Homo sapiens: one gene and its partner. The protein of the gene in region 1 interacts with the protein of each later gene in a biochemical or structural test. Each region holds a gene or a part of one and is shown in the gene's direction. Other genes may lie near its edges. The genes, in order: STXBP4 and RASSF6.

Region 1 (3,830 bases):
AGTGGCAGGGTGGATGGTGGCATTCTAGATGGGAATTCATATGTGTGAAAACATTGAGGTTCAAAAGACCATGGCTGGTTTGAGGCACATTCTCTGAGAGTAGAATGAAGAATATGCTGGTGTGGAAGGTGGATGATGAAGCTAGAAAAAGTAAGTTGCAGTAAATTTGTTGTGCTGGGTTTGGGATGTTGAGGAGTTTCAACTTTTCCTACCAGTTGGCAGCCATCAAAGGTTCTCAATCTAATGAGTAATATAATTAAATTTGCTATCAGTATGAAAATTGTCCACAACAGATATGGAAGTCTCATTCACTTCATCTTATTTAACACGTATAATGTGCTATAATTTACATATGTTACTTAATTCTTATAGCAACCTTGTGTTACATATATTTATCCCCATTCTACAGCTAAGAAAATAGAGGTTCATAAAAGCTGAACAACTTGCCTCAGTTCACAGTAATAACTGGAGTTAAAAGAAGGTCACCATCAGTCTACATCTTGTAAAAGTACAGGAAAGGAATCTTAAGGCTTACAGAAGGACTATTCCTTAGTATTAGGTATAATGAGTTAGTTAAGTCAGAATTAGGCTGTATAGATGGTTTCTCATAATATTGAAATGTATTATTTAGAAAACTATATACCAAAGTCAATATAGAAATGAATAGTACTGGTCGTTTTTAACAGAAGTGTTTATGTGGTCAGGAATATATTATTATTTCAACATCTACATGAATGTCAATGTGAAAGAATTCAGATCTGAAGTTCAGCATATGAAAGTGCTTGGCACATTGCCTCCCATGTCAGGTAGTTGCTCTGTAACTGCTGAATTGGAATCTAGACTGTGTGGAAGAGGTCTCAACATATCTCTGAAGTTAGTATCTTCACATATACATTAATCCATCTGGGGCAGAATGCACTCGAATGCCAGACTTACAAAAATAGCTTTGTTTTCATTTGCAGGTTCTGACTTTTAAACAGGTTCAGAAATTCACATGATCAGCTAAGATCTTATTCTAGGAGGCAAAGAAAAAAACTAACTGCTATGAATACTTTTTAGAAAGAAAAAATATGTAAACACCAGAAGTCATAGTCAGAAGGCATTCTTCTTCTTCTCTTTTCTGACTCCCTTCCTGCCAGAAAATGCAGCTTCTATACATCAGTGTACTTTAATACAAGATGGGCTAAATTGCCTTCATGTGAACTTTTTTTCTGTACTAACACTGCATGTTATGTTGTCTGACTTTGCTAACTATGTTTAATCACATATTTACATAAAATCAAAAATTTTTTTTAAATTATATATATAACATAAATATATATAATATAAATATATATATTATATAATATAAATATATATATATTTTATATATTTTATATATATATATATTTTTTTTGAGACAGATTTTTGCTTCATTGCCCAGGCTGGAGAGCAGTGGCGTAGTCATGACCTTGACCTCCTGGGCTCAAGTGATCCTCCCACTTTAGCCTCCTGAGTAACTGAGACTACAGACATGTGCCAGCTATTTTTTTTTTTTTTTTTTGAAAGATGGGGTCTAACTATGTTGCCCAGGCTGGTCTTGAACTCCTGGGCTCAAGCAATCTTTCTGCCTCAGCCTCTCAAAGTGTTGGGTGTACAGATGTGAGCCACCGTGCCTGGCTTATATATTTTTAAAAATTAAGTTGACTCTTTTGGCTTAAGTATTTTAAATAATGTTTACATTTCAGTAGGATAGGGTCATTATGCATCTAGATTATATAATCTTTTACACACTATTTGAGATATGTTTCTATAAAATCCTTTCATGAATGTTTTATGTCAATTTTGTTGTTTTCCTATATATTCTTTAGTCAGTGAAAGAGATAGTACTTCATGTCTTTTTAAAAAATAATAATACCTGTTGTTATTTAGGAGTAAAATAACTGTGAATCACCATTATTACAAATAATACAGCTTAGATCAAAGATCAGTATCCAAGGGATATATTTTAGTAGATAAGACTTTAAAGAAAGATGTTTTCTTGAATTTGTGGAAGTTACTTAAGTACCATCAAGGTGAAAATCTCCCTTTTTAACCATATAAGCTTTTTCTGTAGTTATAAAAATAATGGTTTCTACCACTGTACTAATTAATGATAAATAGGGAAATACCTTAGGAACTGTAAAAGAAGAAAGCTTATTTTTATTTTCTAGTTTGAATGAAAAGAAAAGACAAAAACTGGGAAACTTATCTAACATATCTAACAACCACATTAACTCTTGTTCCTGATATGCTCTGTCTTACTCAGTTAGGCTAGCTGTGAGCAAGCCAGGCCTTAGCAAAGGCAACACCAGGCAGCCAGTTAGAATTGTCATTATTAGCAGGATATGGCTAACAATATATGCACAGCCAACTAGGCCTTAATCATAGGGGGATAGCAGGTATAGTAAAAAAGATTATGCTGAAATATGGGTAGGATCAATATAATTAAAATCCTTGGCCAGGCGCAGTGGCTCACACCTGTAATCCGAGCACTTTGGGAGGCCAAGGTGGGAAGATTGCTTGAGCCCAGGAGTTTGAGACCAGCCTGGGCAATGTAATGAGACCTCATCTCTACAAAAAATTTTGAAAATTTAATTTTTTTTTTTTAAAAACCCTTGACTAAAGTTTTAAAAATCTCAATGTGGGATAAATCCACACACACATTGAACAGTTTGGTGGGAGGACATATGTAGGAATGCAGAGAAAATAAAATAAATGAGTTTTGTATTGTGAAATATCCCACAGTTATTTGGCCCACTTTATCACAGAGTCAGAGCTTTATCAGCCCCATAGTGCTCAGTTTTTAAAACAGGTCCCTTTTCCTGGTATACTGGCCTATGTCCTACCTACCATATTAAGAATTCTTTACCACGTAAATTTATTCATGCAATACATGAACCATTCCATTTTACTCATAATATATGTTACCAAACCAGACTTTAATCAAGAGATTTTGCTACTGAGGTTGTCTAAGATTTTACTTTTTACTCTTTTTGAAGGCATTCTTCACGAAAACTTTTCATTGCTTTAATTACATCAATTAATTTTTTTTTAAATACCTCATTAGTTCCTTTATAAATGTTACTGTTTTTGTTAGGATGGTCGTTTGAAGCCAGGAGATCAACTTGTCTCAGTCAACAAGGAATCTATGATTGGTGTATCATTTGAAGAAGCAAAAAGCATAATTACCGGAGCCAAGTTGAGGTAACTATACTATCCATGAGATAGAATGAGTCATTTAGAATGTCTCCTTGAAAGCAGTAATTTAAGATGTATTAAGTACTTTATAATAAGTATTTTTTAATAACATCTGAAACATTATCTTGGATTTCAGTTGTACTATATTCATAGCATATCCATAAAGTGATTTCTTTTTAGTACTAGGTTAGAATCTGCTTGGGAGATAGCATTCATAAGACAAAAATCCGACAACATTCAGCCAGAAAATCTGTCATGTACATCACTTATAGAAGCTTCAGGAGAATATGGACCTCAAGCCTCAACATTAAGTCTTTTTTCTTCTCCTCCTGAAATACTAATCCCAAAGACCTCATCCACTCCCAAAACAAATAATGACATTTTATCTTCTTGTGAGGTAAGTCAGGTAATCTTAAATTTCTCTATATATGCACTCCATAAATTCCCTATACATTTTTACATTGGTTATGTACATATAGAATTATTTCAGTAAAATTGTTAACAAATTAATATTTCTTTGAAAGATTTTTTTCTATTTAAAATTTTTATGCTGTGTTTTCAATAAACATATTTTAAGTCAGCATGTCCTGTGTCCAGGAGCATGATTGGTT
Region 2 (3,830 bases), on another chromosome or scaffold:
CTAGGGAGAAAGGTATGGAGTGATAAATACAAAACCATTGAGATAGATTACCTGGTGGGGGATTGGGGAAATGCAGATGAGAGGATGAGAAGGGGGGTGTCAGGCACGGTGGCTCATGCCTGTAATCCCAGCACTTTGGCAGGCCGAGGTGGGCGGATCATTTGAGGTCATGAGTTTGAGACCAGCCTGACCACTATGGTGAAACCCCGTCTTTACTAAAAATACCAAAAAAATTAGCCAGGTGTGGTGGCGCACACCTGTAATCCCAGCTACTCAGGAAGCTGAGACAGGAGAATCGCTTGAACTCAGGAGGCGGAGGTTGCAGTGAGCTGAGATCGTGCCATTGCACTCCGTCTAAAAAAAAAAAAAAGAGAAAAAATGATTTGTTTAAAGGTGTGTACAATAAAAATAGCAAGCACGATATGATTACCTTTATGTATTATGAGTTGTGTGAGGGGGACACTCAAAGGGTAATGCAGAGTATCTCAGGGCTTGGAAATTCCAGTTGTGCTTTACTTCCTGCTTTATACTTTTCTCGTTTGTTCCAATTACAATAGCATGCATGTTTGGGGAAGGGAATTTTTTTTTAAGTTTAAAAAAAGCAGTTTTATTAAGAAGTCTTAAATGATTGTGTGATAACTTGAACAGCTAGGTTGTACAAGATTTGAAAATTCCCTCTTTGGTGTTCTCCAAGACTTGGATTCCATTCACATGCACCTCGTTCTTTCCTCACACCTCTAACTTTAGCCTGCAGTTGAGCAGAAATATGGCTTAGTTTCCTTCCAGTCATTCTTGGGCTCCACACAAGGTGCTGGACCTATGAACGAACAAGCGTGTTGTTTTTATAAGAAAAAAATGTCTATTTTCATTATAAAAAATGTAGTTCTTTATAATTTCACCTATAAAAATCCCATTTTCTTTTATATTTTGTGTCAAAATTTTGCATATATCCATAACTGCAGATAATAATAACTAGGTCAGAAGAGAGCATATGGCTCCTGTTTGGGCAGTAATCTGGAAAACAGAGATAGGTGGGTTTTAACTTTATATCTACAAAGCCCATTACAGTGTATCTCACACTGTAGTTCATTTCAGATTACCTATAGAGTTCACTTAAAATACAGATTCCCAAGTCCTTCCAGATCAGGGGACAACTCTAGGAATATGCATTTTTAATAATCATCATCATAATTTTTTAATCATTATTTTTAATAATCATCCCATAAAGCAGAATCATGAAGCAAGAGGATGCTAAGCCAAGTTAACATTGGACCTGAAGGTCAAAAGAGGATTCTGGTGGGTGGATGAGAGGAGCTAAGTTGTCAAGGCTCCCAACTGCTTCAGAAATGGCAGAGGAATTAGAACAGTAAACACTGACACTATGTGAACAGGAATGGGTAATATCACTTTAATTGTGGGGAGGCTGGGCTTTTGAGTTCTAGACTCTCTCTTGACTCTTTTCCTGGGATAAGTCCAGCTCAGGGAATGAGAACAGTTCTCACTGTTCTGAAGAAAGTAAGCAAGGTGAAGGAGAGAATGAGGAAATAAGATGAATATAAGGACACTATGTTTTGTTCATGCTTTATTCTGATAAAAATGAAATCCCAGATGTGAAACTACTTTGACAGAAAGCTATAAGTACTTTTGTAGCAGGAGTATTTATATTATAACTTTTGGAAATTTGAAGTTCTGGAAACACACCAGATTGGAAGATATTTTCTTTCTCTATCTCATTTTCATGGCTGAATGGATTAAGCCCAGATGAATGAATAATAAGAATATTATTGATCTCAAAAACCTCATGAATATATTTTTAAAGATGAGCCAAGAATTGGGTGTGGAGCGAGACAAAGGAAGAATTGAAAATAATTACATGGTTTTGGACCTGAAGAACCAGAAAGATGGAATTACATCAACTCAACTTGGAAAGAACCAATAAATATTTGTTGTATGGATGAAGGAATGGTGGAATGAAACCTAAATAATTATTGAGGCATATTGCTTTATAAAAGGCCTATCAGACCGGAGATTTGTTTGAACACTCTAATCAAAGGAAGGCTGAGTTCTTTGAGACATTAATCAAAACTTGAGATACAGTAAGAGAAAGAAGTTCATTTAAGTTTTAATTTCAATTTGCTTTTTTGAGTAATTGCCTCCTGTTGCAGGTGTTATTTTTTTCAAAGTGAGTTAAATACGAAAAATAAATTGGAAAATTATCTTCCTTCTTTTCCTGCAGCATGAACTTCTGATTGTGGTTGATTCTTGTTTTCACTGCAGAACAAAGACGACTAAAGAAGACAGACATTCCGCTACTGCAGAGGCTCCTACAGGGACCTTCTGAAAAGAATGCTCGCATTTTCCTCATGGATAAAGATGCAGAAGAAATTAGCAGTGATGTATGAATACCATCACCCTGAATCTGTTTTTTGCTTCCCTCCTGACTCAGCACCTCTTGCATAATTGTTCTGCTTTCTTTTTTTTTTCTTCTTCTTCTTTCTTAGGTGGCTCAGTACATTAACTTTCACTTTTCTCTCTTGGAATCCATTCTTCAAAGATTAAATGAAGAAGAGAAAAGAGAGATTCAAAGAATAGTAACAAAGTAAGTCAAGAGCATGCACATTGGATACTCCGTTCTTTAATATGTCCAATGCACAAAATATGTCCAATTTTTAATAGTCTTTCTTCTTCTCATTTTCAGATTCAATAAAGAAAAGGCGATTATACTGAAATGTCTTCAAAATAAACTAGTAATAAAAACAGAGACAACAGTTTAGCAGTACAAGCTTCTATTGCTAAAACATTTCAAAAAACTCAGAGATATTACTCTTTGATGAATGCATAAGTTCTGTACTTGCATTTATACGAACATATATGAGACTTGAATCGTAGAAAATTGAATGTCAAAAAAAGCTCATTTCTTTTTGAAGTGATGAGGTTAATTAGGGTTCACAGTTGGACAAAATGAGTTTGAGTTTAGTTTCAGTAACTGAAATAAGCTTGAATACTGCATATGCCAAATAGCTTTTATAGTAAACCATGTAATGAACTCAAATTTAAATGGTGTCTTCAGATAAGCAGTTTAAACTTCATTTAGCTTGGACTCTCAAGAGAACTGAAACATAATCAATGGATTCAGAAATGACTCAGAAAAAAGAAGCTGCCAGTTCTTGGAATGAAAAAGAAATACAGTCTTACACCATCAAGGAATCTACCTGATAGTGACAGTAGCTTCTTGAAAACTCTGGCATTTTCATAAAATCTAGGACTATCTTAAATGGCCTGTTGACTTCTGACTATCTGTAACATCAGAGCTGTCTGGCCTTTGGAAAGGAAAAATTATGGACTCTGTTAAGAAATCCTAATTGAAATTTTCTGAACCTCCCCCCAGCCCTTTTATTCTCTCTCTTCTGCTGATGAAAGACCTTTCATCAGTTCAAAGCTTTTCTTAAGCTCTTTTTTAAGTTAATTGAACTTTTTCTTTATTTATTTTTCAAAAAAATGTTTATATCACATAGACATATTACATCGGCTAAAGTAAGACTTGGCCCACAAATACCTATTTGTTGCTGAATGAATACAATGGATAAAGCAAGGCTGTTGTAGCTGAAGTTACATAGGGAATCCCAAACTCTGCCCTCTTAGCATCTTATTCTACATGACAACTCTCAAGGTACTCACAGATCTGTTTAACCCACTTGAAAAAAAAACACTAAAAATGAAGAAATGCTATAAGTATAAACTATGATTTTATTTATAAATTCTGTATTAAAATGGAATTATATGCAACATTCTTTCATTCTGTAAACTAATTCCATTTGCATTCCTCATAA

The links.
Region 2: the proteins of STXBP4 (region 1) and RASSF6 interact in a test that uses a peptide from one of them, tested with the Homo sapiens proteins (one large-scale study listed by IntAct).

What each region holds. Positions count from the first base shown.
Region 1 is NC_000017.11:54,996,227-55,000,056, forward strand, and holds part of STXBP4 (syntaxin-binding protein 4), read left to right. Parts: intron 1-3,118; coding exon 3,119-3,225; intron 3,226-3,399; coding exon of another isoform or gene 3,400-3,405; coding exon 3,406-3,616; intron 3,617-3,830. UniProt on the Homo sapiens protein: Plays a role in the translocation of transport vesicles from the cytoplasm to the plasma membrane. Inhibits the translocation of SLC2A4 from intracellular vesicles to the plasma membrane by STX4A binding and preventing the interaction between STX4A and VAMP2.
Region 2 is NC_000004.12:73,575,179-73,579,008, reverse strand, and holds part of RASSF6 (ras association domain-containing protein 6), read left to right. Parts: intron 1-2,277; coding exon 2,278-2,396; intron 2,397-2,501; coding exon 2,502-2,599; intron 2,600-2,676; coding exon of another isoform or gene 2,677-2,698; coding exon 2,699-2,774; 3' UTR 2,775-3,830.